Linked DNA regions of Homo sapiens. The protein of the gene in region 1 purifies or fractionates together with the protein of each later gene. This does not show direct contact. Each region holds a gene or a part of one and is shown in the gene's direction. Other genes may lie near its edges.

Evidence for each region.
Region 2: the proteins of SLC25A35 (region 1) and PMVK purify together in Homo sapiens (affinity purification with mass spectrometry; 2 studies listed by BioGRID and IntAct, with this or other methods). This does not show direct contact.

Annotation. Positions count from the first base shown.
Region 1 is NC_000017.11:8,289,530-8,306,039, reverse strand, and holds SLC25A35 (solute carrier family 25 member 35), read left to right. Parts: upstream 1-10,639; 5' UTR 10,640-11,232; coding exon 11,233-11,607; intron 11,608-13,451; coding exon 13,452-13,517; intron 13,518-13,684; coding exon of another isoform or gene 13,685-13,768; exon of another isoform or gene 13,769-13,862; intron 13,863-14,554; coding exon 14,555-14,707; intron 14,708-15,063; coding exon 15,064-15,198; intron 15,199-15,361; coding exon 15,362-15,535; 3' UTR 15,536-15,979; downstream 15,980-16,510. Other genes in the region: RANGRF (ran guanine nucleotide release factor), read right to left, coding at 16,104-16,227, 16,452-16,510. UniProt on the Homo sapiens protein: Putative antiporter that exchanges dicarboxylates and sulfur oxoanions across the inner membrane of mitochondria.
Region 2 is NC_000001.11:154,917,940-154,933,719, reverse strand, and holds the end of PMVK (phosphomevalonate kinase), read left to right. Parts: intron 1-1,304; coding exon 1,305-1,368; intron 1,369-4,543; coding exon 4,544-4,696; intron 4,697-7,236; coding exon 7,237-7,366; intron 7,367-8,454; coding exon 8,455-8,591; 3' UTR 8,592-8,980; downstream 8,981-15,780. UniProt on the Homo sapiens protein: Catalyzes the reversible ATP-dependent phosphorylation of mevalonate 5-phosphate to produce mevalonate diphosphate and ADP, a key step in the mevalonic acid mediated biosynthesis of isopentenyl diphosphate and other polyisoprenoid metabolites.

The DNA of each region.
Region 1 (16,510 bases):
CTCCTGACCTCAAGTGATCTGCCTGCCTCGGCCTCCCAAAGTACTGGGATTACAGACATGAGCCACCGTGCCCAGCCTTTTATTTTTTTATTTTTTGATACTCTTTCTGTTGCCCAGGCTGGAGTGCAGTGGCATGATCTTGATTCACTACAACCTCCACCTCCCGGGTTCAAGCAATTCTCCTGCCTTAGCCTCCCGAGTAGCTGGGATTACCGGCGTGTGCCACTGTGTCCGGCTAATTTTTGCTATTATTTTTAGTAGAGATGGAGTTTCACCATGTTGGCCAGGCTGGTCTCGAACTTCTGACCTCAGATGATCCGCCCACCTCAGCCTCCCAAAGTGCTGGGATTACAGGCGTGAGCCACCGCGCCTGGCCTGTATTTCTTAAATGTATTTGAATGTATTTGATTGAGGCCAGGCGCGGTGGCTCAAGCTTGTAATCCCAACTCTTTGGGAGGCCGAGGCGGGCCGATCAGCTGAGGCCAGGAGTTCGAGACCAGCCTGGCCAACATGGTGAAACCCCATCTCTACTAAAAATACAAAAATAAGCCAGGCGTGGTGGCGAGCGCCTGTAATCCCAGCTATTGTACTTGGGAGGCTGAGGCAGGAGAATCGTTTGAACCTGGGAGGCAGACGTTGCAGTGAGCCGAGATTGTGCCACTGCACTCCAGCCTGGGTGACAGAGTGAGACTTGGTCTCAAAAAAAAAAAAGTATTTGATAGAAGTCTCATGTCTCCCTAAAATGTATAAAAGCAAGCTGCACCCCAACTACATTGGGCACATGTTCTCAGGATCTCCTGAGGGCTGAGTCACAGGCCATGGTCACTCATATTTGGCTCAGAATAAATCTCTTCAAATATTTTACAGAGTTTGACTCTTTTTGTCAATATCACCATCTATTTTATTTGTGTCTTATCTCATTACAAAAAGAAACTGAGCTCCGAAAATCATATTATGCAGTAAACATGAGACTATTTGTGCATGCACACGTTATTTATTATAAAATACTTTTGCAAAGACACTGAAGGTTTTTGACGTAATAATTCATTCTTCTACCACCCTTACAGAGCAAAAGTTTTCTATTTTTTCATATTCCAAATGTGCCATCATAGTTTCAAGTCTGTCTTCTGCCTTGTTCTCTTAGCATTGCTTTATAACCAATTTTCATGTCGCTACGTGGTCTTTGCAGCTATAACGTTTCCTGGAATATAATGTTGCATCAAATAGATTTCATCTTCCTGGTAACAGCAGTGTCCATCTCCTACGAAACTCTCCATCACCCACCCGACTCCATGTGGTTCCAGTGGGACAGCCAATCACAACAGCCTCCCTCTGGCCACGTGACTCAGGTTTGTTCAATCACAGTGCCGTATTCCTCTGGCCACAGAGACTGGTCCAGGAATGAGCAGGTCAGGACAGACTCCAGGAGAAAGAGAAGCTTCTGGGCCTCTGAGAAAGAGAAGCTTTCTCTTTCCTCCAAGCTCACAAGGCAGGAACAATCTAAGTCAGGAGCTGTCTATACCTTGGCCTACTTCCTTCCCCTGGAAAAGGAGGAAGCCAGTCAACAGTGGGAGAAAATGAGCCCCATACCTGAGGGAAGCAGAGCCAAGAGAGGGAGGAAGCCTGGCGGTGGCGCATGCCTGTAGTCTCAACTACTCCAGAGGCTGAGGCAGGAGGATCACTTGAGCCCAGGAGTTCGAGGCTGCAGTGAACCAAGACCACGCCCCTGCACTCCAGCCTGGGTGACAGAGCAAAAAAAAAAGCTGGGGATTACAATGATATTTGAGTCCCTTGGACCTCCCAGCTTCCAGAGGCATGACATTCCCTTTTGCGCTTGAGCTGGTTTTAGCTGGTTTTCTGTCACTTACTGCTGAAAGAACCTTGACCATTACAATTTATCCCCTAGTGCAGAACTGGGAGACAGTCCTCCTAGGGAAGCTTACACTCTTTACCATTACAAATAATTAGTGCAGCCGGGCGTGGTGGCTCACACCTGTAATCCCAGCACTTTGGGAGGCTGAGGCAGGCAGATCACTTAAGGTCAGGAGTTCATGACCAGCCTGGACAACAAGATGAAACCCCGTCTCTACTAAAAATACAAAAATTAGCCAGGCATGTTGGCACAAGCCTGTAATACCAGCTACTCAGGAGGCTGAGGCCAGAGAATGGCTTGAACCCAGGAGGCGGAGGTTGCAGTGAGCCAAGATCACACGATTGTACTCCAGCCTGGGCGACGGAGCGAGAATCCGTCTCAAAAAAAAAAAAAAAAAAAAGACTTCAATTTGAAGTCTTTTTGAAGTATTATTATTATTATTATTATTTGAGACAGAGTCTTGCTCTGTTGCCCAGGCTGGAGTGTAGTGGTGCAATCTCGGCTCACTGCAACCTCCGCCTCCTGGGCTCAAGCCATTCTCCTGCCTCAGCCTCCCGAGTAGCTGGGACTACAGGCGCCCGCCACCACGCCTGGCTAACTTTTTGTAGAGACGGGATTTCACCATATTGGCCAGGCTGGTCTTGAACTCCTAATCTTGTGATCCTCCCGCCTCAGGCTCCCAAAGTGCTGGGATTACAGGCGTGAGCCACCACGCCCGGCCTGAAATATTATTAATGAAGTAACCCTAGGAGCTTCAATGTGACTGGTTTAGACTTTGCTTGGAGAGTCTGTTCTGGAAGGATGAAGGAGCCCATAAGCGTCTGCTCCATCTCTTTGTGTCCACACCCAGCAGCCTCCTTCGGTCTTCCTCATGTCATTGACCTGTTGGTTGGAAAAAGTGGGTGTCAGGGAGAAGAGGCACTTTGACTGTTCATTTAAAATCAGGCAGAGGGGTTTAGCCAAGCCAAGAGGCAGGGCATGAAGGAGCATTGTGGGAATCCAGGGAAGCGCAGGCACAGCGAAGAGGAAAGTAGGCACGTCTGGAGAACCGTGAAAGGGAAACAAACTGATCTGAAATGAAAAGAGGGACACATGGAGGCCATATCGTGAGCAATCACACCGGGCAGACAGGCCCTGAAGGTTTCAGAGCAGAGTAGGGGGAGTGGATCACGATAGTTTTTGTTTGTTTGTTTGTTTGTTTTTGAGACAGGGTCTTAAAATCGCCTTTGTAAAGTTATAACTGAGGAAATTATGACAGTGAAAGAAATCAGACCTCACCAGTTCCATGTTGCTTCTAATCTTTAAGCTGTCCTTGTTCATTCCTCAGCGTAGGCTGAACTAACTTTGGGAAGGAATTCAGTTCATGGTTTGACTCTGAAACAAAATTGTTAATAGTCCTTAACTGAAAAGACCCCCTTCTTGCCTGGGGACCAGTCTGCCTTTGCAGGACTAACAAATTGACAGATTAGCTACAAGATTATAAATTAGTTTGGGGGTCATGCAGCCGCTGGCTCTATGAATCAGCTGATACCACCCAGACCTTAATCTGGCACCACCTGTTCTGTCATCACACCCAGGAACAGAAGACAGCAAGAAAACCTCACTTCGACCCCCTGCAATTCCATCTCCAACCTGACCAATCAGCACTCCCCACTTCCCAAGTCCCTACCCGCCAAATGATCTTTAAAAACTCTGATTCTGGTAGCCGGGTGCGGTGGCTCAAGCCTCTAATCCCAGCACTTTGGGAGGCTGAGGCGGGCAGATCACGACGTCAGGAGATCGAGACCATCCTGGCTAACACGGTGAAACCCCGTCTCTACTAAAAGTACAAAAAATTAGCCGGGCGTGGTGGCGGGGGCCTGTAGGCCCAGCTACTGGGGAGGCTGAGGCAGGAGAATGGCGTGAACCCGGGAGGCGGAGCTTGCAGTGAGCCAAGATGGCGCCATTGCACTCCAGCCTGGGCGACAGAGCGAGACTCCGTCTCAAAAACAAACAAACAAACAAACAAACAAACAAAAAACTGATTCTGCTTGGGGAGACTGATTTGAGTAATAATGTAATAAAACTCCCGTTTCGGCTGGGCACAGTGGCTTATGCCTGTAATCCCAGCACTTTGGGAGGCCGAGGTTGGCAGATCACGAGGTCAGGAGTTCAAGGCCAGCCTGGCCAACATGGTGAAACCCTGTCTCTACTAAAAATACAAAATATTAGCCGGGTGTGGTGGCGCACGCCTGTAGTCCCAGCTACTCGGGAGGCTGAGACAGGAGAATCGCTTGAACCCAGGAGACAGAGGTTGCAGTGATCAGAGACCATGCCATTACACTCCAGCCTGGGTGACAAAGCGATACTCCGTCTCAAAAAAAAAATAAATAAATAAGATTTGGTTTAGGAGTCATGCAGCTGGAGGCTGCAAGATTCTGAACCTCCCCAAATTGCTCCTGGGGATAACATCATTCTTGTAAAACCTAAGATGAGTGCTTGTGATATTTTGCAGACCCTGCACTCAAAGCATCATCTGGCAACACCCGGATCAATAAACTGGTTCATCTGTTCTTGTGGCCCCCACCCAGGAACCGACCCAGTGAAAGAGGAGAGTTTCAACTCCCTGTGATTTCGTCTCCCACCTAACCAATTAGCACTCCCCACTTTCTGACCCCCTACCCACCAAATTATCAAAAACCCTGATCTCTGAATTTTCAGGGAGATTGACTTGAGTAATAATCAATTTTGCATGTGGCATGGCCGGCCTCGTGTCAATTAAACTCTTTCTTTACTGCAATGCCGTGGTCTTTATTTGTGCAGAGGACAGGAAGAGCCCACTGGGCAGTTACATTTCCACTGAGGATGCTAAGCTGGTGGAATATGGGCCTGCAGCTGCTAGTGGCCATCAGTGAGGTGGCCTGAGAATAAAACCGATACATGGCAGAGGTGGAGAGAGACAGATTTGAGTGCCTGATTCTGCTGGCCTGAAGTCATGTGTGTGTCTGGAGCTTTCAGTTGTGTGAGTCAATGAGTTCCCTTTTTGTAAGCTAGTTTGAGTTGGATTTCTGTCACTTACAACAAAACAATCCCTTATAAAGGGAGCTTCTAATAAAAGAAGTGTTGAGTCCAGCTCCCTCCGGTAGGGCCAGGACTTGGAAGTCCAGTAGACTCTTTCATGGAGCACAGAACACCTGGGCCTCATTTCTGTCTGCAAAGCTGTTAATGTAGGTAGCCTGCCTGTGATGGGGGATAAATCAGGAAGAAGCAGTAAGGAAAAGCTGGCCTGCTCTGGGAATTTATACAGGTTTTGGCCCAGGTGAGGATACACAGAGACGATCCTTCCTCACCACCACTAGGTGGAGTTTGAGCACTTCGGGTGCGCGCTCAGCAGCCAAAAGGAACCCATCAGTGTCTAGGCTACCAAGGAAGAGGCAAGAAAGACACAGCCCCCTGCCCTCCAAGCCTCCCCGTCTTTCTCGCTCCCTCTCTATGTTACCACCCCTTCTTTCAGACACCTGGGGACTTTTACGTTCCCTATGCAACTCCTCTCAAATCTGATTCATGACATTCACATCCAGGAAAAAATGGTAACAGCCTACAATAAATCAAGACAGCATGATATTGGTCAAAGGCTAGACACACAGATCAAGGGAACAGAAGTGAGGGCACAGAAATCGAGCCACACAAATATAGAAAACAGATTTTTTACAAAGGACCAAAGGAAGAAGAAGAAAGAAGAAGGAGAAAAAGAAGAAGAAGGAGAAGAAGAGGAGGAAGAGGAAGAAGACGACGAAGGAGGAGGAGGAGGAAAGAAGAAAGAAGAAAAGAGAGAGGAGGATGAGAAGAAACCAAACCCAGACCTCACATAATTTACAAAAATTAACTCAAAATGGATCATAGACCTAAATGTAAAAAGTAAAACTATAAAGCTTCTAGAAGAAAACATAAAAGAAAATCTAGGTGACCTTGGGCCTAATTATACATTTTTGGGTTTTTTTTGTTTGTTTGTTTTGTTGTTGTTGTTGTTGTTGTTTTTTGAGACGGAGTCTAGCTCTGTTGCCCAGCTGGAGTGCAGTGGTGCGATCTCGGCTCGCTGCAAACTCCGCCTCCTGGGTTGAAGTGATTCTCCTGCTTCAGCCTCCCGAGTAGCTGGGATTACAGGTGCCCGCCACCACACCCAGCTAATTTTTGTATTTTTAGTAGAAATGGGGTTTCACCAGGTTGACCAGGCTGGTCTCGAACTCCTGGCCTTAGGTGATCCACCCACCTCGGCCTCCCAAAGTGCTGGGATTACAAGCATGAGCCACTGCATCCGGCCTCAATTTTTTTTTTTTTTTTTGAGACAGAGTCTCACTCTGTCGCCCAGGCTGGAGTGCAGTGACGCGATCTCGGCTCACTGCAAGCTCCGCCTCCTGGGTTCATGCCATTTTCCTGCCTCAGCCTCCCTAGTAGCTGGGACTACAGGCACCTGCCACCACGCCTGGCTAATTTTTTGTATTTTTAGTAGAGATGGGGTTTCATTGTGTTAGCCAGGATGGTCTCGACCTCATGACCTGGTGATCCGCCCTCCTCGGCCTCCCAAAGTGCTGAGATTACAGGCATGAGCCACCACACCCGGCCAATTTTTGTATTTTTTTTTTTTAGTAGAGATGAGGGTTCACCATGTTGGGCAGGATGGTCTCGATCTCTCGACCTCATGATCCGCTGACCTCAGCCTCCCAAAGTGCTGGGATTACAGGCCTGAGCCACCATGCCCAGCCCTGATATATATATATATAGATAGATAGATAGATAGATAGATAGATAGATAGATAGATAGATAGATGTAATTTTGAGACAGAGTTTAACTCTTGTTGCCCAGGCTGGAGTGCAATGGCGCAATCTCCTGCTCACTGCAACCTCCACTTCCGGGGTTCAAGTGATTCTCCTGCCTCAGCCTCCCGAGTAGCTGGGATTACAGGCATGCGCCACCACCCCCAGCTAATTTTGTATTTTTTTTAGTAGAGAAGAAGTTTCCCCATGTTGGTCAGGCTGGTTTCACACCCCCAACCTCAGGTGATCTGCCTGCCTTGGCCTCCCAAAGTGCTGGGATTACAGGTGTGAGCCACCACGCCCAGACTCCTGATATTTTTTTTATTTTATTTTTTTTGACTCCTGATATTTTTAATTAAAAAAAAAATTAGGAGGTCAGGGAACCCAATATGGAAGGCAGATTGTGGCAAAAGAATTTAATGATACTACTAATGTATGAAATAACTTTTCTGAAGGGAGCTGGGGGAAAGGTGCTGACCTGAGTAATTTTGGAAATGAGTCGAGTCTGTAAGATCAAAGGCAAATGGAACTACACATAAGCACTGTACCCTAGTTTATAAGATTGTTCTCCACAGGGGTATGTGTTAACAATTCTCTTTTGAGACATTATGATTACAAATAAAGAAATATTTTATTTTATTTTATTGAAACGGAATCTTGCTCTGTAACCTAGGCTGGAGTGCAACGACGCGATCTTGGCTCACAGCAACCTCCGCCTCCCAGGTTCAAGTAATTCTCGTGCCTCAGCCTCCCAAGTAGCTGGGACTACAGGTGCGTGCCACCACGCCCAGCTAATTTCTGTATTTTTAGTAGAGACGGGGTTTTGCCATGCTGCCCAGGATCGTCTTGAACTCCTGACCTCAGGTGATCCACCTGCCTCAGCCTCCCGAACTGCTGGGATTACAGGCATGAGCTACTGTGCCTGGCACATATAAAGAAAAATTTTAGGCTGGGTGTGGTGGCTCACCCCTGTAATCCTAGCACTTTGGGAGGCCGAGGCAGGTGGATCACCTGAGGTCGGGAGTTCGCAAACCAGCCTGACCAACATGGAGAAACCCTGTTTCTACTAAAAATACAAAATTAGCCAGGCGTGGTGGCGCATGCCTGTAATCTCAGCTACTTGGGAGGCTGAAGCAGGAGAATCGCTTGAACCCGGGAGGCAGAGGTTGCAGTATGCCAAGATCATGCCATTGTGCTCCAGCCTGGGCGACAACAGCAAAACTCCATCTCAAAAAAAAAAAGAAAGAAAGAAGAAAAAGTTTAGGCCGGGTGCAGTGGCTCATGCCTGTAATACCAGCACTTTGGGAGGCCAAGGCGGGAGGATCACCTGAGGTCAGGAGTTCGAGACCAGCCTGGCTAACATGGTGAAACCCTGTTTCTACTAAAAATACAAAAACAAATTAGCCAGGTGTGGTGGTTCGTGCTTGTAATTCCAGCTACTCAGGAGGCTGAGGCAGGAGAATCGCTTGAACCTGAGAGGTGAAGGTTGCAGTGAACTGAGATTGCAACATTGCACTCTAGCATGGGCAACAAGAACAAAACTCCGTCTCAAATAATAATAATAATAATAATAATAAAGAATTTAAAAAGAAAAACAAAACAATTCTGATACTCCTATACACGTGTCCTGGAATAAACAATTAAGTAAATAGATGGCAAATTATGGAAGCCAGGTTTCTCACAGTTGGGGTGGGAGTTTAGATAAACAAGGGAGGTGGCTAGAATGATCCATGTAGTAATGGATTAAAGTTGGAGACATCAGTATGAATTCATGCTTAGCTTAATATAGATATGGATGGTTATATATGGAAATACATGTTTGTGTATATACGTGGGTTAGTATACACACATATATTTCCTTGCTTTCTCAGATGTGAGGGTCCAGAAGCAATGATACCTCAAAAGCAACAAGCACACCTAGGGCCCAGATCTTGGATTCTAAAACCATTTGCCAATAAAAGAAAATAGGGGTCCTTGGAGAAATGGCTGATTGCAGGACTGTGGCAGGAAATACACAAAATGAGCCTGGAGCATTTTATAGTACCAGAAAGTAAGGTGACACTAAATAAAAACAAGGTTTTAATTAAAATACCAATGATGACAACAACACTGATGGGACTCTTATTTTTCTCCCTGGTTGAGGATTGACCGCCATCATGAATGACTTAGTAACTATCTGAACTAGGAAGTTCATGATCAACTGACTACATACTTCAGGAGGAACAAATGGTTATTGAGGTCCTTCACCCTGGGAAGACAACAGTACCTAAGACAGAAATTCAGGAAAAACTAGCCAAAATGTATGAGACTACACTAGATGTCATCATCTTTGTTTGTTTTTGTTTGTCTTTATGAGATGGAGTCTCCGTCTGTCACCCAGGCTGGAGTGTAGTGGCGCAATCTCGGCTCACTGCAACCTCTGCCTCCTGGGTTCAAGTGATTCTCCTGCCTCAGCCTCCCGAGTAGCTGGGATTACAGGTGCCTGCCACCACACCCGGCTAATTTTTGTAGTTTTAGCAGAGACAGGGTTTCACAATGTTGGCCAGGCTGGTCTCAAACTCCTGACCTCATGTGATCTGCCTGCCTCTGCCTCCCAAAGTGCTGGGATTACAGGCGTGAGCCACCACGCCTGGCCTCATCTTTGTATTTGGATTCAGAACTCATTTTGGTGGTGGCAAGACAACTGGCTTTGGCATGATTTATGATTCACTGGATTATGCAAAGAAAAATAAACCCAAATGCTGACTTCCAAGACATGGCCTGGATGAGAAGAAAAGAACTCAAGAAAGCAATGAAAGGAACACAAGACCAGAATGAAGAAAGGGGGACTGCAAAGGACAGTGTTGGTGTGGCAAAAAGCCAAAGGAGTAAAGATGCTACAGTAACATCTGTGGCCACTGTGGATTTTTCACAAGATTTATAAACTAAAAACTTTTGTGTGCAAAAAAAAATGGATGGGGGTATGCTAAAGAGACACAGGAGCCAACGGAAACAGCTCTCAAAGGCCAAAGCTAGAACGAAATTAGCTAGAAAATAAATATGAAGTATATTGGATTATAACCCAAAGTATAAATGTCCATGAGTCCATACTGATTAAATAAATGGTTGAATAAATAATGGAGGAGTAGAGACAAATATCTCATATGAAAGAACTCCAGGCCAGGGATGGTGGCTCACGCCTGTAATCCCAGCACTTTGGGAGGCTGAGGCGGGTGGATCACGAGGTCAGGAGATCGAGACCATCCTGGCTAACACGGTGGTCTCTATTAAAAATACAAAAAATAAGCCGGGCGTGGTGGCGGGCACCTGTAGTCCCAGCTACTTGGGAGGCTGAGGCAGGAGAATGGCGTGAACCCGGGAGGCGGAGCTCTCAGTGAGCTAAGATCGCGCCACTGCACTCCAGCCTGGGCGACAGAGCGAGACTCCGTCTCAAAAAAAATAAAAAATAAAAATAAAGAGCCTAAGGACTAAGGATTTAATTAACCAAGCACCAACCCGTGCAGCCTCAGGAGACTGGTCCCGCAGCGCAAGTGTGTCCCTCTACCCCCCGCAAGCCGGGCCGCGTCTTCCTGGCTCTCCTGGCGCCGGCACCGAGCAGGGCGTGGACCTGAACTTATGTGACCCCACCCGGTCACAACCCGGGGTAGGAAGCTAAAGCCGTCCGCCCACCCGAGGGGCGGTCCCAGCACCCCAGTGGGGGACTGCTGCGCTCGGCCTCTGTGTTCGATCGGGAACCCAGGTCTCTTCCCTGCCAATAACAAAACCGCCGCGTCCCGGGCCTCCCTTCCGGAGCCGGAGTCGGCGGCCGAGCGCTGGTGGCGGAGCCTGGACAGTTAATTCCAACCGCCTCCGGGTGATTCCGGGGACAGGAGCGCCGAGAGCTCCTCCCTTTGGCCGCGGAGCCGGCTCGGCGCTGATTGGCTGAGGGCCTCGGTTGTGGCTCTTGAAGGCTCCCCATTGGCCCCGCGCTCCAGTGGCAGGAGTGTGGCGGCCCGGCCTCCGCAGGCTACCCGGGGTTGAAGCTACTGCGAGCTCCGGTGGCTGCCTGGGGACGCTCAGGGACGCTCATTCCTGGCCAGAGTCCTGACTTCTTTCTCGGATCGAGATCTCGTTGCTGGCTCGAGGAAATCACCGGCTCTTCTCCCGGATCCTTTTCTTCTCTCACTTGCTGGCTTTCTTCTTCCTGCCTCCCTGGCTTCCATCTCCCAACCCCGCGATTCCCTCCTCTACTCCCGTGCTCCCGTCGCCCGCCATCCTGAGCCATCCCACCTGCAACCTTCTGTCTTTTGCCCCTCCTTGACCTCAGAGGGTCCTGCCTTAAGCTTCTCACCAGAATCTCCTAGATTTCTATCTCTTCCCTGCTTGCCAGCTCTTGACTCCCAAATTCCAGCTGACGTTTGACCACTTGACATTTGACCCTGACACCCTTGACTGCAAATCTAAATTCTTATCTTCTGCAACCTGTACTGCTGAAACAGGCCTTCCCCCTGTCTTCCAACCCCGCTTTCTGACACCCATTTTTACTTTCTTACTCTTGGGTCAGTTCCTGCTACAGCTATCCCACCATGGACTTCTTGATGAGTGGCCTGGCAGCCTGCGGGGCCTGTGTATTCACCAATCCCCTGGAGGTGGTGAAGACCAGGATGCAGTTGCAAGGAGAACTGCAGGCCCCTGGCACATACCAGCGGCACTACCGAAATGTCTTCCATGCCTTCATCACCATCGGCAAGGTGGATGGCCTTGCTGCCCTGCAGAAAGGCCTGGCCCCCGCCCTCTTGTACCAGTTCCTGATGAATGGCATCCGACTGGGCACCTATGGGCTGGCTGAGGCTGGGGGCTACCTGCACACAGCCGAAGGCACCCACAGTCCTGCCCGCAGCGCAGCAGCTGGGGCCATGGCTGGGGTCATGGGAGCCTACTTGGGGAGCCCCATCTACATGGTAAGAAGAGGGCTCTTGCCTGGGACCTTCAGGGCAGATCCTCGTTGTAGGATAGGAGCTGTTCTTTCCCAAGGGCATAGGTGGCAGAGTGCTGCCCCACTGCAAGCAGGGAAAGGCATCAGGAAAGTGCTGGTAGGCTTCGGAGTCTTCTGATCTGCCCTATACACACCCATCTGATGGACACGATTGAATGTATTGATTAAGATTATGGGCTTTGGGGCCGGGTGCAGTGGTTCACACCTGTAATCCCAGCACTTTGGGAGGCCAAGGCGGGCGGATCACGAGGTCAGGAGATGGAGACCATCCTGGCTAACACAGTGAAACCCCGTCTCTACTAAAAATACAAAAAATTAGCCGGGTGCGGTGGTGGGCGCCTGTAGTCCCAGCTACTCGGGAGGCTGAGGCAGGAGAATGGCATGAACCCGGGAGGCGGAGCTTGCAGTGAGCCGAGATCCGGTCACTGCACTCCAGCCTGGGCCACAGAGCAAGGCTACGTCTCACAAAAAAAAAAAAAAAAGATTATGGGCTTTGGAATCAGACTTTCTGGAACTAAAATCCTGGCTTTGAAAATTACTAGTTGTTGGCCGGGCGCGGTGGCTCACGCCAGTAATCCCAGCACTTTGGGAGGCCGAGGCGGGCGGATCACGAGGTCAGGAGATGGAGACCATCCTGGCTAACACGGTGAAACCCCGTCTCTACTAAAAATACAAAAAATTAGCCGGGCGTGGTGGTGGGCGCCTGTAGTCCCAGCTACTCCGGAGGCTGAGGCAGGAGAATGGCCTAAACCCAGGAGGCGGAGCTTGCAGTGAGCTGAGATCCGGCCACTGCACTCCAGCCTGGGCCAGAGAGAGAGACTCCGTCTCAAAAAAAAAAAAAAAAAGAAAAGAAAGAAAATTACTAGTTGTTGAGCTTCAGTTGCCACATCTGTAAAATGGTGATAATTATAGTGCCCTTTCTGTGTGATTATTGGGAGGATCGAGGGAGACAAATGCGGTAGACATGAAAGCATTAGTGCGAATCCTGGCAGACAGTAAGCATTTGGTAGCATTTGTTTTTATTATTATGTGTTGATATTGAGGTTGGATTTGTGAAGGGGAGGATAAGGAATTTAACATACGTCAGAGAGTCTAGGGATCAGGAAGGCCCTGGGCATCACAGAATTAACAATCTCAACATCTGCCCCTTTGAGTTATCTGGTATAGGTGAAGGGTCAAGAGCCTGAGGCCCAGAAAGGGGAAGTGACCCACTCAAGGTCACACAGCTGTTTATTGCTAGGACTAGGCCCTGCTTAGTGCTCCCAAGAGCAAAAGAGACGGGGAAGTAGTATGTCCTGTAGCAGAGGCAGTCTGGTCTCATTTCAAGGTGTGAGTTTCAGGGACAGTGGTCTCCCCAAAGTCAGCTCGATACCTCTGTGGGGGTTGGGGGCTAGAGAGCAAGTTTTGCCCAGAGTCTGATGGGGAGCCTGATAGAAGTGGTGGCTGGAGATCCAGTCTGGGAATGGGAGCTAGCATGAGAGGCGGGACACCAGGTCTTGCCTAACATGAACAGCCTTAGGAAATATTGCCATTCTCCAACCACTCCACCCCCGACTGCTAGCCCCAAGGGAAAGAGGATATGAAGGGGTTGGGGTGTCTTGCAGTGCTGGGAGATCCACCCCCCTGGGGCTGGAGCCTAGAGACAGAGTCTTTTTGTTAACCAGTTTGTTAAGTAGGAAGAACAATAATCAGAGTAAGAGGCTATTCATTGCTGAACACCCTAGAGGAAGTGTGAGGGGGTGAGACATTTGGTTCTCAGGTAGGAGGATGGCCACTGGGGCACAGGCTATGATATTCTCTTGTTCCCAGGTGAAGACACACCTGCAGGCACAGGCAGCCTCAGAAATTGCTGTAGGGCACCAGTATAAGCATCAGGTGAGGGTTCCCAAGTCTGCCAAAGTCCCTGACCATCCTTTCTCTTTTCCCCTAGCTTTCTGCCTGCACCCAACAGATCCAATCCCAGCCACTGCTCTGCTCAACCCATCGGTTCTGTCCCATTTTGCCCCTGGAGTCTACCCAGACCCTCTTTACTCTTTTTTTAGATGGAGTCTCGCTCTGTTGCCCAGGCTGAAGTGCATTGGCACGATCTCGGCTCACTGCAACCTCCGCTTCCCGGGTTCAAGTGATTCTCCTGCCTCAGCCTCCCGAGTAGCTTGGGACTACAGGCGTGCACCACCACACCCAGCTAAATTTTTTTTGTTTTGTTTTGTTTTGTTGAGACAGAGTCTTGCTCTGTTGCCCAGGCTGGAGTGCAGTGGCGCAGTCTTGGCTCACTGCAACCTCCACCTCCCGGGTTCAAGTGATTCTCCTGCTGCAACCTCTTGAGTAGCTGGGATTACAGCCATGCGCCACCACGTCCAGCTAATTTTTGTAATTTTAGTAGAGATGGGGTTTCACCATGTTGGTCAGGCTGGTCTCGAACTCCTGAACTTGTGATCCGCCCGCCTCGGCCTCCCAAAGTGCTGGGATTACAGGCATGAGCCACTGCACCCGGCAATTTTTGTATTTTTAATAGAGATGGGGTTTCACCATGTTGGCCAAGCTGGTCTCAAACTCCTGACCTCAGGTGATCCACCCGCCTGGGCCTCCCAAAGTGCTAGGATTACAGGCGTGAGCCACCGTGCCTGATGCCTCTTTCCAATATGTACTCCAGTTCCTCTAATTTTCTGCCCCTGTTTCTCCTGACCAGTGAATGGCCTCACTTGCATACATCCCGCCCCAGTTCTTGGGTGCCCAGGGAAGGAACAATGGGGTGGCTAGACAACCAAGGGCCCACATTCTGGCTCTAAGCCCACATTGAACTGGTTGTCTGGACAAGAGATTCCTATTAAGGACCCATCCTTGGCAGTGTTAGGATGGCAGCCCCTGATGCTGGGCTGTCTGAACCCCACCCCCGGTCTTCCCCACACTAGGGCATGTTTCAGGCGCTAACCGAGATTGGCCAGAAACATGGTCTGGTGGGGTTATGGCGTGGGGCTCTGGGCGGCCTGCCCCGAGTTATCGTCGGTTCCTCCACCCAGCTGTGCACCTTCTCATCCACCAAGGACCTCCTGAGCCAGTGGGAGGTACTGCCTGGGAAATGGGTGGGTCTGTTTCGGGAAGGGGGGAAGGGGAGGGCAAGCTGCACTAGGCCCTGGAGGGGATGGTGCCCAACATTCACAGGTGAGGGAGTGGCAGGAGGGCTTGGAGGTCAACTCTTTAGACCCTTCCCACAGTTCTCTTGTCACTTCCTCCCAGAAGGGGTACCTGAGCCTTCAGGGTACCCTGGCCTTCCTCCTTCTCACTGTTTTTGCACTGTTATAACTGGTGCAGTGGAAGCTCCCCCAGTTACCAGCATCTGTGTCCCCAGGGCAGGGACTGTCCTGTCCTTGGGGTGTAATAGTTGGCTGGTTGACAACGCTCTTCCTCTCTACCCCCTTAGATCTTTCCTCCCCAGAGCTGGAAGTTGGCGCTGGTGGCTGCCATGATGAGTGGCATTGCAGTTGTCTTGGCCATGGCACCCTTTGATGTGGCCTGCACAAGGCTCTACAACCAGCCCACAGATGCACAGGGCAAGGTAAGGAAGTGCTCTGGGATGCAGGCGGGAAGCAGGGGATGGGGAAGGCAGATTGCGGGTGCAGGTGGGATAGCCTGAAATGCAGCCTGTAGAGGTGCTGCCCCTGGTGGGCTCTGACAAACTCCTTCTCTGTGCTCTCCCTCCCTCTCTGACACACTCTCAGGGCCTCATGTACCGGGGGATACTGGACGCTCTGCTGCAGACAGCTCGGACCGAGGGCATTTTTGGCATGTACAAGGGTATAGGTGCCTCCTACTTCCGCCTCGGCCCCCACACCATCCTCTCCCTCTTCTTCTGGGACCAGCTGCGCTCCCTCTACTACACAGACACTAAATAACAGCCGCTTTCCCAGTCTCCACCAAATGAGCACTCCTTGGCCACTTGTGCCTCCACCACTATGTCCTGGTGACTACTGATTAGGTGACCTTTCATCCATCCATGGGGGACAGCCAACCCCACTCCCCATCTGTTCTCAGGGTTGAATCACTACAAGAGATGAGTTTCCCTTCTTTCCTTGGGTGTTGCTTTAAACCTTCCCTACCCATTCCCTGGGTAACTCACACCCCTCTCTCAGGGCTGAACGAGTCATCCCAAAGTGTATTTCCTCCCACTCACCACTGCCACCCTTGAGTCCCTCCTGCTCCCATGCACAGTTTTAAACTCCTCCCTCCAAAACCAAAGGGAATCGAGAGACCCAATTCCCAGGCGTCTGGGACCCAGGTGTCCTGTTAGATTCAAAGGCACAGAGATTATATTGATTATAAAGCAAGTTTATTCTGAAGAGGGATTGTCTTATGTTTACGCACAGGGAAGAAATAAGAGGAAACCCTCTTTTCAACCTCTTTTCCCCCTCACAGAACCGAGTCCCCAAGTTCTCAGCAACATCATGCAGTGCTTCAGCGCCTTTACTGGGGACCAAAGATGTTAGGATCGTGAAGGGTCAGACTGGTCACCAGCTGTTCAAAGTCACCCAGGCTCCAGGGTGCAGGTGACAGATTTTCGGGGCCAAGAGATGACCTGTTGTCAGGGCTTGGGGTGGGGGAACAGATGGAGACAGAACATCATCCAGGCCTGAGGTTTGGAAATTGCCAATTCCTGTTCCCCAGAGGACCTGGGTATCAGTTACCCCAAACCTCTGGCCCACTCCTGCTTCCTTGGAGGATCCCACCAGTGAGTCTCCCTGTTCTGTCCCTCCCAGCCCGATTCTCCTGGGAACCCAGTCATGAGATACCCGCCCGTTCCTTCCTCCTTACGGGGGCTGATTGAAGGTAAGCAAGAGATCAGTCTGGTACTGGGGCAGCCTCAGCAAGGC
Region 2 (15,780 bases), on another chromosome or scaffold:
GAGTTTGAGACCAGCCTGGCCAACATGGCAAAACCCCGTCTGTACTAAAAATACAAAAATTAGCCGGGTGTAGTGGCGGGCGCCTGTAATCCCAGCTACTTGGGAGGCCGAGGCAGGAGAATCGCTCAAACCTGGGAGGCGGAGATTGCAGTGAGCCGAGATCGCGCCATTGCACTCCAGCCTGGGTGGTGGAGCAAGACTCCGTCTCAAAAAAAAAAAAAAAAAAAAAGGTTGGTTAAGTAAATTAAATAACGAATGAGTTATTTTTATTTTTATTTTCATTTTTGAGATGGATTTTCACTCTTGTTGCCCAGGCTGGAGTGCAATGGGGCGATCTCGGCTCACTGCAACTTCCACCTCCTGGGTTCAGGTGATTCTCCTGCCTCAGCCTCCCGAGTAGCTGGGATTACAGGCATGCGCCATCATGTCCGGCTAATTTTATGCTTTTAGTAGAGACAGGGTTTCACCGTGTTGGTCAGGCTGGTCTCAAACTCCTGACCTCAGGTGATCTGCTGCCTCAGCCTTCCAAAGTACTGGGATTACAGGCGTGAGCCACCACACCTGGCTTTTGTTTCAGTTTTTTAAATTTGCTTTTCTTATTTCATTTTTATGAGACAGGGTCTCACTCTGTCTCCCAGGCTGGCATACAGTGGTACAATCATGGCTCACTGTAGCCTGGAACTCCTGGGCTCAGGAATGCTCCCACCTCAGCCTCTGGAGTAGCTGGGAGTACAGGCACATGCTGCCATGCTCAGCTAATTTTTAAATTTTTTGGTGGAGATGGTATCTCTGGGTCTTATTGTGTTGCCCAGGCTGGTCTTGAACTCCTGGCCTCAAGCACTCCTCCTGCCTTGGCCTCCCAAAGTATTGGGATTACAGGTGTGAGCCACCATGCCCAACCAGTGAATTAATAAATGATATATGTTATGGTGACCAAGTCAGTGGAGACAGATACCTCTGGCTATGAGAGAATTAGTTTAGGGTCTGGGCAATAACCTAATCCAGCTAGAATATTGTGCGCCTGTTCACACTGTAATTAGCACTTTATAGGTTTTACCTGTTAGTTTCAGGGCTCTTTTATATTCTTTAGAGTTTCATAATAATCCTGTGTGGGAGACAGAACAGAAAGTGTTATCCCCATTTTCTGATGAGGAAACAGGATCAGGGACATTGAGACCTACCAAAGTTACATAATACCAGTAGTAGAAATGGGACTTCAACACAGGCCTCTTGACTCCCTTTCTGGGACATGGAAGCTCCTGGAAATTCTAGGCTAACTGGATTCTGATCTCCCTGTCCTGCAGACTTGGAGCTGATGTCTGTGCTGTCCTCCGGCTCTCTGGTCCACTCAAGGAACAGTATGCTCAGGTAGGTGGTGCTTTGTGGCATCCGGTGTGTTGGGCGGGGCCGGCTCCAGGACTTTGGAGCTGTGGCTGCTGCCTGAGTCACTGGCATGATTCCCGTCACCACTGCTGGCAGGGTGGTGGCCAGCTCTTGGTTTTCTGTGAGTGGACCTTTCGGGGGCATTTTCAGCTTATATTTCTTTCCTAATAGCCTCCCTCCCTTCAGAGTGAGTTCAGGAAGGTGTGCCCAGGAAAGGCTGTCGACACTCGAGTTGGCAGCTCTGATGCTGTGTGATTAGTAAGGACCTGCCTGTGCCTCCTCACACCACCCTCTCACTCAGCTGGCCTGACACAGCCCCTAGAACTTTGCTCCTAGAAATTTAGTACAGGCCGAGCACGGTGGCACATGCCTGTAATCCCAGCACTTTGGGAGGCCGAGGCAGGTAGATTGCTTGAGTCCAGGAGTTAGAGACCAGCCTGGCCAACATGGTGAAACCCCATCTCCGTTTCTTTAAAAAAAATTTTTTTTAAAGTAAACAACAACACACAAAAAAGAAATTTAGTCCCAGAAGTTGTCAAAATATATCATTAAGTGAAAAAAAAAAAAAGCCAATACCAAGATATAGAACAGTGTGTAGAGAATGCTACATTTGTCTAAAACTGAAGAGGCACTTTGTGACCAAGAATTGTAAAAGAATTCTAAATATATCTGCTCATATATTTGGCTATTTAACAAATATTTACAGGGTGCCTGTCTCATGTTCAGCACTGTTTCAGGTGCCTGGGATGTGTTCCTGCACTGCATGGGAAAGACAGGTTAGAAACCGTACCATTGGTTGCCCCCAGGGAGGGGACAGGGTGAGAGAGAGATTTTCGACTGTAAATTAATGTGTATCTTTGAATTTTGAACCACATGGATTAAAAAAAATAGAATCGTTAAAATAGAATAAAAAAAATAAGTCAACAGGAACTCTCAGAATCTTAGACTTCAGAAAGGGAACTTGGAAGGCAAGATCAGCCTCCCACATGGTGAAGAGCCCTCTTGTCGCCACATTTTGCCCTTGACCTCTAGGTGCACCCTTCTGGGACGTGTGCTTTGGCCCCTCAATTGGCCAGAGTGTGGTTTCCGGAACCACATAAAATGAATTGTCCCCCCTTCTATATGCCATCTTTGCCTCCATGGGAAGCATTGGGTCATCTCTCACCAGCTGAACAGACCTATTCATAGGGTGGCAGCCTGAGGAATTGTAAGAATAACTAAATTAAGTGGTTTATTTTTTTTTCTTTTTGAGACAAGGTCTTGCTCTGTAGCGCAGGCTGGAGTGCAGTGGCGCATAATGGCTCACTGCAGCCTTGACCTCCTGGGCTCAAGTGATCCTCCCACTTGAGCTTCCCAAGTAGCTAGGAATACAGGTGCATGCCACTATGCCTGGCTAAGTTTAAAATTTTTTTTTGTAGAGATGGGAGTCTCATTATGTTGCCCAGGCTGGTCTCCAACTCCTGGGCTCAAGTGATCCTCCCACTATGGCCTCCCAAAGTGCTAGGATTTGGGCAGGAGCTACTTTACCTGGCCTGGTTTTCAAAAATTTTAAGCAGGATTCTTTCCCAAATGAAACTGGATACAGAATTTCTTTGTATCCAGGAGACAGACTGGGAGCGATGCTGCAGGGTGGTGGGGTGGTGGTGGGGGGATGGGAGGAAGGAAGGGGTGAAGGGGAAGGCACTGAGCCTTCCCTAGTGGGGCCTAGGCACTTCCAAAGGCCTCCCAGGAGCACTTTCAAAACTGATCTTCCAAAGTTCCCAGACAGGTCTTGCTTCTGTCCTACTGAGTGAGACTGGTGGGGTTGGGTGGGGGGCGGGAGGAAGAAGGAGCAGGAGTTTGCATTTTTATTTATTTATTTATTTTATTTATATTTGAGACGGAGTCTCGCTCTGTCGCCCAGCCTAGAGTGCAGTGGCACGATCTTGGCTCACTGCAACCTCCACCTCCTGGGGTTCAAGCAGTTCTACTGCCTTAGCCTCCTGAGTAGCTGGGATTGCAGCCATGGGTGACCACGCCCGGGTAATTGTTTTGTATTTTTAGTAGAGACATGGTTTCACCATATTGGTCAGGCTGGTCTTGAACTCCTGACCTTGTGATCTGCCCGCCTCGGCCTCCCAAAGTGCTGGGATTACAGGCGTGAGCCACTGTGCCTGGCCAGTTTGCATTTTTAAAAGCTCCATGGAAGACTCTGATAGGCCAGACTGCCCTTGCTCTGTGCAAGTCCAGCACCACTCTATCCCCCACTCCCATTAAAAAACAAAACCAAAATGAAATGTTCATGCATTGATTTCCTAAGTCACAAGAAGAAATATAACCAACAAGTAGACCACAACGCTCCTGGAGGGAAACTGGTTCAGGAGCAGGAGGTGGCTACTGACCTCCTCTTGCAGCAAGGGGAGCAGGTGGGTGATCAAGAAATTGAGAGCCTGAGGGGAGAAGGTCTTGTTGCAGTGAGTTCATGGAGGAGCCAGAATCTGAACGAGGTGATGCTTTTCAGACCCCTCCTATCCTGGATCCCTTTGGATGGACCCCTCTGCTTGGAAAGGGGAGAAAGGAGTTCCCCAGGGTGGTCAGAGTAACCTCTCCTGCCTTGGGGGTCCTCTGGGTGTGGGAGGCCTTGCAAGTGCCCAGAGCCAGATGGAGTGATGCTGTTTCAGCAAAGGCGCCAGGAATTTGGGGATGGGAAGGGGTAAGGGGGAGAGAAAGGAGACACAATCTCCGTGGGATTTGGGATGGGGGCAAACAATGCTAGTGGGAGGACATGGAGTGCAGGATTTTTTTTCCCCCCTCAGATTTCCCACTTTAGTTGAAGGCTAAGCCTTTGCCCAGGGGATGCAAACTAATTTCAGTATTAGTTTAAGCCAGAAATAATTGGGAAGGTAAAACTTGCAAAAGAGAAACCACGCCACATATTTCAAAGACAAATTGAAACAATTTCTGGATTATCCCCAGACCTTTCTTCTGTCTACCAGTGATCGGGATTTCTTAGTTGCTGAGACTCTTGCCCTTGCAGACCTTTGTCCTGGCTGAAACCTCATTAATCCTTGCATCAGCCCTGGGGGAGGCAGGTGAGGGTGAGGGATGGCTCTTCCGCTGTTTTAGGAGAGACCACTGAGGTTGAAAGGCCGGTGACGTAGACATAATGTCCTTTGGGCAGGAGCATGGCTTGAACTTCCAGAGACTCCTGGACACCAGCACCTACAAGGAGGCCTTTCGGAAGGACATGATCCGCTGGGGAGAGGAGAAACGCCAGGCTGACCCAGGCTTCTTTTGCAGGAAGATTGTGGAGGGCATCTCCCAGCCCATCTGGGTAAGAGGGCTCCATGGCAGCATGAAGAACACCTGTTTCCCTAGCTCTTCGCTGTGTCCATCTCTCTCTGTCTCCACTGCCACCATCCTGGCCCAAGCCCCCACCATTTCTGGCCTGGACAGTCGCAGTAGCCTCCACACTGGTCTCTAGCTGTGGCTCTTGCCCTCTGTGGTCTATTCATTACACAGTAGCCAGACTGACCTTTTATTATTTATTTATTTATTTATTTATTTATTTATTTATTTATTTTTGAGATGGAGTCTCACACTTGTCGCCTGGGCTGGAGTGCAGTGGCGCAATCTTGGCTCACTGCAACCTCTGCCTCCTGGGTTTAAGTGATTCTTCTGCCTCAGCCTCCCAAGCAGCTGGGACTACAGGTGTCCACCACCACGCCTGGCTAATTTTTGTATTTTTAGTAGAGACGGGTTTTCACCATGTTGGCCAGGCTGGTCTCGAACTCCTGACCTCAGGTGATCCACCCACCTTGGCCTCCCAAAATAGTGGGATTACAGGTGTGAGCCACTGCATGCGGCCCAGACTGACCTTTTAAAAACGTGAACCAGGTGATGTCACTCTTCTGTTTAGAATACTTTGGTGGCTTCCCATTGTGCTCATGAACAAAATGAAAATCCTTCACATGAACTTCTGGGCCTTGTGTGATCCAGTTTCTGCTACTTTTTTAGCCTCCTTACTCCTTAAGCTGTAGCAACACTGGCCTTCTTGGTCCTCAAGTCAGTCGAACTCCTTCTGGAATCAGGGCCTTTGCACATGCCCTTCCACCTGTCTGGACTGCCCTTTCTTTCTCTTTCCCTGGTTAGCTTCAGCTCAGTTGACATGACACCTCCACAGGGAAGCCTTCCCTAATATTCAGGTCTTAACTGGTGCTCCCTGGCAGGTGCTCCTATAGCACCCTACCCCTTTTTTTCCTCATTCATTCTGGCAGTGAATATTGAGTGTCTACTTCTGCCAGGTGTGGTTGCATGTTGTGGGGATATATTGGTGCAAAAGCGCAATGAAATCTCTTCCTTCAGGGAGCTTACATTACAGCTGAGGGTGGCGGGGAGATAGGCACAGAATAAATACAGAATATATCAGGCAGTGGTAAATACTAAGGAGTAAAATAAAGTAGGCCTAGGATATGAGGAGAGATAGGGAAGCGTTGCTGTTTTATTAAGGGTGCCTGGGAAGGCTACACTGATATGATGATGTTTGAGCAAGACCTGAAGGAAATAAGGGATAACTGAATGGATATTTGGGGAAGTAGCTTTCCAGAGAGAGGGAGGAGGAAGTGCAGAGGCTTGAGTGGTGAGTGTGCCTGGTGTGTCTGAGGACAAGCCAGGTGGCCAGAGTGGTGGAAGGTCAGGTCAGACTTCCCAGGGCGGACCTTTGGGAGAGCTGGGATTTTATTCTGAGTGAGATGGGGAGTCACTACAGCGTTCTAAGCAGAGGAGAGACATGATCTGATTTCAGATTGAGAAGCCTGGCCATAGCTGCTGTGGGGAAGATGGGAGCAGAAGCACAGGGGCCGGGTGGAGGACTTTCCTGTGTTTTTTTTTTTTTTTTTTTTTTTTTTTTGAGACAGAGTCTCACTCTTGTCACCAAGGCTGGAGTGCGGTGGCGCGATCTCAGCTCACTCTACCCTCTGCCTTGTGGGTTTAAGCGATTCTTGTGCATCAGCCTCCCGAGTAGCTGGGATTACAGGCATGTGCCATCATGCCCAACTAATTTTTTTTGTATTTTTAGTCGAGACGGTGTTTTACCATTTGGCAAAATTTGAACTCCTGACCTCAAGTGAACCACCCACCTCGGCCTCCCAAAATGCTGGGATTACAGGCATGAGCCACCATGCCTGGCCAGGACCTTTCTGTAACAGACAAAATGACTATGGTTGGGGCGCAGAGGGGAGCAAACGTAGAGTGGAGAGAAGGGGTCAATTTTGCGTGTATTTTGAAGAGAAAACCAACAGGATTTGCCCTTGGGTTGGCTGTGGGGTGTGAGAGACTATACCAAGGATTTTGTTCTGAGCAGGTGGACAAATATAGAATTATCATTTTCTAAGACAGGGAAGGTGGGGAGGAACAGGATTGGAGAGGAAATCAGGAGTTGAGTTTCAGCCGTGTTGAGGTTGAGACACTTGTTGACATACACTGTAATCACATGGTTATTTGATTACTGAATACTTGTTCAGTGTCTCCCACTAGACTGTAAGCTCTGAGAGGGCAGGCACAGGGTCTGTTTTGCTTACCAGTCTAGCCTTAGCACCTAGCACAGTGACCAGCGTACAGTAGGTACTTACTATAATACTTGTTTAATTGGATTAATGAACTTGTCAGCAGCACTGCCTGACATGTAGTCAGCACTCAGTGGTGTATGTTCAATGAATGAATGAATCCGTGAATAGTGAGTCTAGCTGCTGACATGCTCACGATGATGGGGGGGTAGAGCCACACCCCACACTGCCCTGGGTTCTGTAGTCCTCCCACCTCCCCTCACTTCTATCATCCTGTCCTGTTGGTCACCTGTCTGTCCCTCTCCTGCAGCTGGTGAGTGACACACGGAGAGTGTCTGACATCCAGTGGTTTCGGGAGGCCTATGGGGCCGTGACGCAGACGGTCCGCGTTGTAGCGTTGGAGCAGAGCCGACAGCAGCGGGGCTGGGTGTTCACGCCAGGTGAGCCACTCTATGTGTAGGGCACAGGAGGACACAGGCTACCCACCCTGTGGTTTGTCTACCGGGCAGGCCTGGGGGAAGTGAATAAGGGATGATAAAGGAGAATCTGAGGCCTCCTGATTAGGGAGTAGCATGGTGGACAGAATCCTGAGGGTCAAGGTTCCCTTGGCTTAACCTAGGCTATCTTCTCATGGCCAGTGGGCTGCTTTGGTGGTCTGGCTGGGACCCACCCCCATGATTCTTCACCTTTGCTTTCCAGCCCAGTAGGGGCTGACAGTGGTCAGGGGCAAACCTGACAAAGCTCACTTCTGTTTAACACAGTAGTGGAGTTAGAAGTTAGTAGTGGAGAGGAAGTTCTGCTGGGAGCTTCAGTGGTGCAAGCCCAGGACCCGCTCTGTGGGCTTCAGAAGCACAGCTCAGGCTTCCTTCCTGCCCTAGATCACTGTGACTTAGAGCAGCAGTTCAGATCCAATGGGTATGACCACTACTAATGCTGCTCATTTCTGGGGCACTCACATGTCCAGGCCTGTGCTAAGCATTTTATATGCACTGTCTCACTTTACCATCAAAACAGATTCAGCAGGTAGATGCTGTTATTAGTTTACCCATGGTTGGATGAGGCCCTGGCCTGAAAGGTTAAGTCTCTTTCCCAGGGTCACAAAGAGTGAGAGGAGGAGCTGGCCTCCTGACCCTCTGCTTCTGACTCCAGCACATGCTGCCTCCTGAGGGGATTGAGTCAGACAGATTTAGGGATAGAAAAGGACACAACCAGCTTGACAGAAAATGAAAACACAGTGCCCTTTTGGGTTGTGTGTGGTTTTAGATGACCCGATTCACCCTCTGTAGGCAGTAGCAAGTGAAGGATTAAGTCAGGAGGGATCAGCTGAGAGGCCCAGGTGGCTATGGGCTACTGAACCTGCCATCACAGTGTTTCAGGGGTAGGGAGGTGCCTTCTGGGTGGGTAGCCCTTGGCTCTAGGGTAGCAGAGGAGAGGCCGGGAGGGCCCACTCCAGTTGGGGTTAGCAGGCCTTGATGCCTGCTGTCTGTCTGGAGGGCTGAGGCCTGACCTCACCATGCTTCCTTCATAGGGGTGGACGATGCTGAGTCAGAATGTGGCCTGGACAACTTCGGGGACTTTGACTGGGTCATCGAGAACCATGGAGTTGAACAGCGCCTGGAGGAGCAGTTGGAGAACCTGATAGAATTTATCCGCTCCAGACTTTAGTCACTAGGTTCTAGGAGTGAGCTGGGGCCTGCTGAGGTGGGGGTGGGGCTGACTCTGCAAAATGGGGGTGTCCCCCGATCCTGGCCGAGGTGAGGAACAGACAGGGGGGGTCTAGATTCTGAGGGGGTTGGTGGATATTGGGCAAGGCAGGAAACCTCTGGAGACCTCATTTTCTCCATGGGGAAGACAGCCATGCTCTTCAGGAGGAGACTCCAAGGGCAAAGGAGGGTGTCTTGGCTGTGCTTGAAGGCGAAACCCTGCCATATCCCCAGTGCCAGTCCCCTCAGCCTGTGGTGGCCTTGCATCCTGACTGGATGTTCTCAGCCCCTTGTTCTGGGCAAGAACCCAGAGCTCCCCAGTGTGGATACTAATAAACCTCTTGGAGCACACTCTCAGAGCTGCTTGTCTCTCATTTCCTTGATGCCAAGCTGGCCTGGGTGGGGTTTAGAAGGCGTTAGGGTGTCATGGTGGCTGGAGGGTCCCTGTTCCACCTCCCACCTGGCTAGAATGTATTCTTCAGAGGTTGACCTATGCTGCACCCCACAGGCAACTGGCCTGTTTATGTTGGAGGTGGGATTGGGTTGAGGCCCTTACCCTCTGGTATAGCGCCATGAAAGGCTGTGATCCATAGAAAGTGCCACCAGCAAGTGCCCCCTCCCCCCGCTTTTTTTTTTTCTTTGAGACAGGGTCTTATTCTGTCACCCAGGCTGGCATGCAGTGGTGTGATCATAGCTCATTGCAGCCTGACCTCCTGGGCTCAAGCAATCCTGCCTCAGCCTGCCAAGTAGCTGGGTCTACAGGCACACACCACTATATTTGGCTAATTTTTTTCATTTTTAGTAGAGACAGGGTTTCGCTATGTTGCCCAGGCTGGTCTTGAACTCCTGAACTTAAGCAATGCTCCCACCTTGGCCTCCTAAAGTGTTGGGATTACAAGTGCGAGCCATTACCATGCCTGGCCCTGCCCTTGTAATTTATATAGCCTTTTATAATTTCCAAATTTCTTCTAGATTCTTCACAGCTACCCCCTGAAATGGGCGAGGATAGGATTTTCATCGCATTTAGCAGATGCCAAGAACTCAAAGAAGTGAAACAACTTCTCCAGGGTTAGAGGGCTTAGTAAGTGTCAGTGCTGTGTGGAACCCAGGCCACTTGACTCCTGACCAGGCCCCTTCTGCACATTCCTATGGTTGTGGTACAAAGTCCCAAGGCTCCTTGCTGTCCCCAGGCCAAGCCTAAGCCCTCCAACTCTGGCCCTGGCTTCGTAATCCTCCCACAAATTCTGTTCTCACAGATAAGGGGACAGCCAAAGAAATTACACTTTCAGTGTGACCCAGACTGAATCTTGTTTCTGCCCAGATCTCCTCTGCTCTGCTGCCATCATCCTTGCTGGGTGCCAGGCACTGGGCACATAAAGATGAACAGGTCACAGGACTGTTCCTTAAGGAACTCTTGACCTCAGTGAGAAATAGACACCCTCCAGGTGCCCAGGAACCTGAAGGCAGTGCCAAAGACAACTTCAGTTCTCTGGGAAGGAGGGTGGGCTTCCATGACACCCAGGCCTGCCGTGCCTGGGTGAGCACTGACCCCTTGTCCCAGGGGCACTGCCATTGCTGCTTGGAAATCCCTCTCTGGAGCTGGGAGCAAATGATTGTGAACAATCCCAGTCATGGAAATGTCCAAAAGTCACTGGGGCCAACTCTGATGAATGTGGGAGGCAAAGTTTTTGGGTTACAAACCTTAACGAGTCATAAGGTTTGTAAAGAAGTCGATTAGGGGCTGGGGTGGGGTGGCTCATGCCTATAATCCCAGCACTTTGGGAGGCAGAGGAGGGTGGATCATTTGAGGTCAGGAGTTCAAGACCAACCTGGCCAACATGGCAAAACCCCATCTACCAAAAATACAAAAATTAGCTGGGCATGGTGGCAGGTGCCTGTAATCCCAGCTACTCAGGAGGCTGAGGCAGGAGAATTGCTTGAACCTGGGAGGCAGAGATCTTGCCACTGCACTCCAGCCTGGGCGACAGAGCGAGACTATCTCTGAGAAAAAAAGAAGGGCAGGAAGGACACAATCAAACCAGGGAGAACATAGAGTCCACGGGGCCAGCTAAGAGGCTTCTGCAAGATTCCAAGCAAGAAGTAGCACAGGCTGAAGGAGAGAGGGTCACTGGAAAGCAGATGGGTTGGTGGTGGCATTCAACTTTGTTTCTGACCCAGCCCACCTGATACCGGGCATATTCCCATCAGTGAAACTGGCTCACTGCCTGAAGGGGAGCAGAGGTTCCGGGCACAGGAGCCCTGTCAGAACCTCCGGGTTGGAGGTGAGGAAACACCTACTGCATGACATCATTACCTGCTTGATTCCAGCATGTCTTCTGTAGTCCTGTCTCACCATGCATTCAATCACATCCACTTCCTGAGCACCTGCTGTGGCTCTAGGAGCTAGGGACACAGCTACAAGAGAGACATGGGCCCTGCCATCACGGAATTTACCTTTCAGAAATAATCCTAGACAGGGTAGGTTCCACAGAACTTGGGGACCGATTAGCCACAGCAGCTGGGGAGATGGAGGAGTTCAAACTTGTGCCAGAAACCCTGGGTTTTATCGCCTTCCCTGAAGGGGGTGTCTTCAGCATGTGGGAATGTGGTAGTACCTTCTCAGTTTGGAAGCCAGTGAATCCCTGCCTTCGTAGGCAATGAGGGTCAAAGCTCCAGATGGATGTGAACCTATCAAGTGTGGTACTAGAGTAAGAGTTGATGCAGACAGGGGGGTAGGGACTGGTGGGTCTCCTGTGCCCTCCGGGAGGGGTGCTGCCCTGCTTTCTTGGCTCTGGGTATTTAGAGGAGACACAGGATTATGACTTGGGAGCCAGTGGGTCTGTCTACCTGGTGACAGGTTGGTAGTGATGCCTTTTAAAATAGGAAGCCCAGTGTCTGCCGGATTCGAAGTTCATAATATTTTTTTTTTTTTTTGAGATGGAGTCTCGCTCTGTCACCCAGGCTGGAGTGCAGTGGCACAATCTCAGCTCACTGCAACCTCCACCTCCCAGGTTCAATGCTTCAGCCTCCCGAGTAGCTGGGATTACAGGCTCCCGCCACCACGTCCAGCTAAGTTTTGTATTTTTGGTAGAGACGAGGTTTCACCATGTTGGCCAGGCTGTTCTCAAACTTCTGACCTCAGGTGATCCACCTGTCTCGGCCTCCCAAAGTGCTGGGATTACAGGCGTGAGCCACTGCGCCCAGCCTCATAATTTTTTTTTTTAAGCAAGGTCTTGCGCTGTCATCTGGGCTGGAGTGCAGTGGTGCAATTACAGCTCACTGCAGTCTCAACCTCCTGACCCCAGGTGATCTTCCTATCTCAGCTTCTTGAGTAGCTGGGACCACAGGTGTGTACCACCATGCCAAGCTAATTAAAAAAATTTTTTTTTTAGTGATGGGGTCTCGCTGTGTTGCCCAGGCTGGTTTTGAAGTCTTGGGCCCAAGTGATCCTCCTGCCTTGGCCTCTCAAAGTGCTAGGATTACAGGCATGAGCCACTGCGCCCAGCTCATAATTTTTTTTAACTGATATTTCCCTAAATATAAAAACCAAGAATAACCCTCACTTTTGACACTATATGTTATGATGAGAGCCTTAGCTGCTTTTTATTTCAAGACATTCTCCCCACTTCACTGCTACAGGTTGACCATCCCGAGTCCAAAAATCTGAAACCTGAGGTACTCCGAAGTCCAAAACTTTTTGAGGGCTGATATGACGCCCAAAGGAAATGATGAGTGGAGCATTTTGTATTTTGTGTTTTTGGATCTGGGATGCTTAACTGGTAAGTATAATGCAAATATTTTAAAATAAAGATCAGAAATTCAAAACACTTCTGGTCCCCAGCATTTTGGATAAGGGATACTCAACCTATAGTCTTTGCTCACTTTGTCTGTGGTTATAATCTCAGAGTATAAAGCTACTTATTTATTTTTTTCTTTAAGACAGGGTCTCCCTCTGTCACCCAGGCTGGAATGCAGTGGCATGATTATAGCACACTGCAGCCTCAAACTCCTGGACTCAAGTGATCCTCCCACCTCAGCCTCTGGAGTAGCTAGGACTAAGGTACGCGCCACCATGCTTGGCTAATTTTAAATTTTTTTTGTAGAGATGGGGGTCTCACTATGTTGCCAGGGCTGGTCTTGAACTTCTAGCTTCAAACGAAGCTTCCACTTTGGCCTCCCAAAGTGCTGGGATTACAGGCATGGGCCACCATGCCTGGCCAAGTTATTTTTAATATTATGTGTCTGTTATTTTACTACTTCTTCTTTTTTTATTTATTACCCACCCATGAATGTATGTATATGTTATTTTAGTCATGATTTGTAACACTAACAGCCTCTTTAAAAATTTATTATTATATTTCTAAACAACTTTATTGAGCTATAATTAAAATATAATAACTACATATATTTAAAATGTACAATTTAGGTGGGGTACGGTGGCTCACACTTGTAATCCCAGCACTTTGGGAGGCTGAGGCGGGTGGATCACTTGAGGTCAGGAGTTCGAGACCAGCCTGGCTAACACGGTGAAACCCCGTCTCTACTAGAATACAAAAATTAGCTGGGCATGGTGGTACATGCCTGTAATCCCAGCTACTTGGGTGGCTGAGGCAGGAGAATCACTTGAGTCAGGAGGTAGAGGTTGCAGTGAGCCAAGATGGCGCCACTGCACTCTAGCCTGGGCAACAGAATAAGACTCCATCTCAAAAAAAAAAAGTACAGTTTACTGAGTTTTGACATATGTATACATCTGTGAAACCACAGTACAATCACTATGGACATATTCATCACTCTCAAACATTTCCTCATGTCCCCTTGTAATTCCTCCTCTCGCCTCTCCCTGATTCCCCACCCTCACCCCCAAGCAACCACTGGTCTGCTTTCTGTCTCTATGGATGTTTATATTTTCAAGGATTTTGTATAAAGAATAATAAAATTTGGCGAGATGCAGTGGCTTACGCCTGTAATCCCAGCACTTTGAGAGCTCAAGGGAGGGCAGATCACCTGAGGTCGGGAGTTCAAGACTAGCCTGGCTAACATGGTGAAACTCCATCTCTACTAAAAATTAGCCAGGTGTGGTGGCGAATGCCTGTAGTCCCAGCTACGTGGGAGGCTGAGGCAGGAGAATCTCTTGAACCAGGGAGGCGGAGGTTGCAGTGGGCTGAGATCGTGCCACTGCACTCCAGCCTGGGTGACAGAGCCAGACTCCATCTCAAAAAAAAAAAAAGATTAATAAAGTTTTATACAAAGAACAGTATATATTCTTTATTGTCTTGTTTCTTTTCATTGAGCATAATTATTTTGAGGTTCATCCACATTATTGGTGGTATCAGTAGTTCATTCCTTTTTTTTTATTGGTATGTGGTATGAATATACCACAGTTGTTTACCAGTTCACCTGTTGATGAACATTTAGGTTGTTCCTAGTGTTTGGATATGACAAATAAAGCAACTATATACATTGATGTACAACATGTATAAGTCTTTGTGTGGACATGTGCTTTCATTTCTCTCAGGTAAATATCTTTTCAACTTTTTTTTTTAAGACGGAGTTTCGCTGTTGTTGCCCAGGCTGGAGTGCAATGGCACAATCTCGGCTCACCGCAACCTCTGCCTCCCGGGTTCACACGATTCTCCTGCCTCAGTCTCCTGAGTAGCTTGGATTACAGGCATGTGCCACCAAGCCCAGCTAATTTTGTATTTTTAGTAGAGACAGGGTTTCTCCATGTTGGTCAGGCTGGTCTCAAACTCCCAACCTCAGGTGATCCACCCGCCTCAGCCTCCCAAAGTGCTGGGATTACAGGCGTGAGCCACCACACCCGGCCGACTTTTGTTTTTGAGACAGAGTCTTGCTCTGTCGCCCAGACTGGAATGCAGTGACAGGATCTCAGCTCACTGCAACCTCCACCTCCTGGGCTCAAGCGATTCTTCTGCCTCAGCCTCCTGAGTAGCTGGGACTACAGGTGCCTGCCACCATGCCCAGCTACTTTTTGTGTTTTTTCATAGAGACTGGGTTTTGCCATGTTGCCCAGGGTGATCTCGAACTCCTGGGCTCAAGCAATCTGCCTGCCTTAGCCTCCTAAAGTGCTGGGACCACAGGCATGAGCCACCGGGCGTGGCTTAACTTTATTTTTGGAGACTGTGTCTCATTCTGTTGCTTGGGATGGAGTGCAGTGGCATGATCACGGCTCACTGCAGCCTCGACCCCCCTGGGCTCAAGTGATCCTCCCATCTCAGTCTCCCGAGTAGCTGGTACTACAGGCATAAACCACCATGCCTGGCTAAATTTTTTTGTATTTTGTAGACAAGGTGTCTCCATGTTGCTCAGGCTGGTCTCAAACTCTTGGGCTCAAGCATTCCTGAGCCCAGGAGTTTGGCAGGCTGAGGCCTGCCTCATCCTCCCAAAGTGCTGGGATTATAGGCATGAGCCACTATGCCCAGCCACCTTTTTAACATTTTTTTTTTTTGAGACAGAGTTTTGGTCTGGTTGCCGAGGCAGGAGTGTGATGGCGTGATCTTGGCTCACTGCAGTCTGTACCTCCCGGGTTCAAACGATTCTCCTGCCTCAGCCTCCCGAGTAGCTGGGATTATAGGCATGCACCACCATGCCAGGCTAATTTTTGTATTTTTAGTAGAGATGGGGTTTTGCCATGTTGTCAGGCTGATCTCGAACTCCTGGCCTCAGGTGATCTGCCCACCTCGGCCTCCCAAAGTGCTGGGATTACAGGCGTGAGCCACCATGCCTGGTCTTAACTTTTTTTTTTGAGACGGAGTTTTGCTCTTGTTGCCCAGGCTGGAGTCAATGGTGCAACCTCAGCTCACTGCAACATCTGCCTCCTGGGTTCAAGTGATTCTCCTGCCTCAGCCTCCTAAGTAGCTGGGATTACAGGCACCTGCTACCATGCCTGGCTAATTTTGTATTTTTAGTAGAGACAGGGTTTCACCATGTTGGTCAAGCTGGTCTCAAACTCCTGACCTCAGGTGATCCATCTGCCTTGGCCTCCCAAAGTGTTGCGATTACAGGCATGAGCCACTGCACCCGGCCTACCTTTTTAACTTCTTCTTTTTTTTTTCTTTGAGTCTGTGTTTCACGCTTGTTGCCCAGGCAGAAGTGCAATGGCACGATCTCAGCTCACTGCAACATCCGCCTCC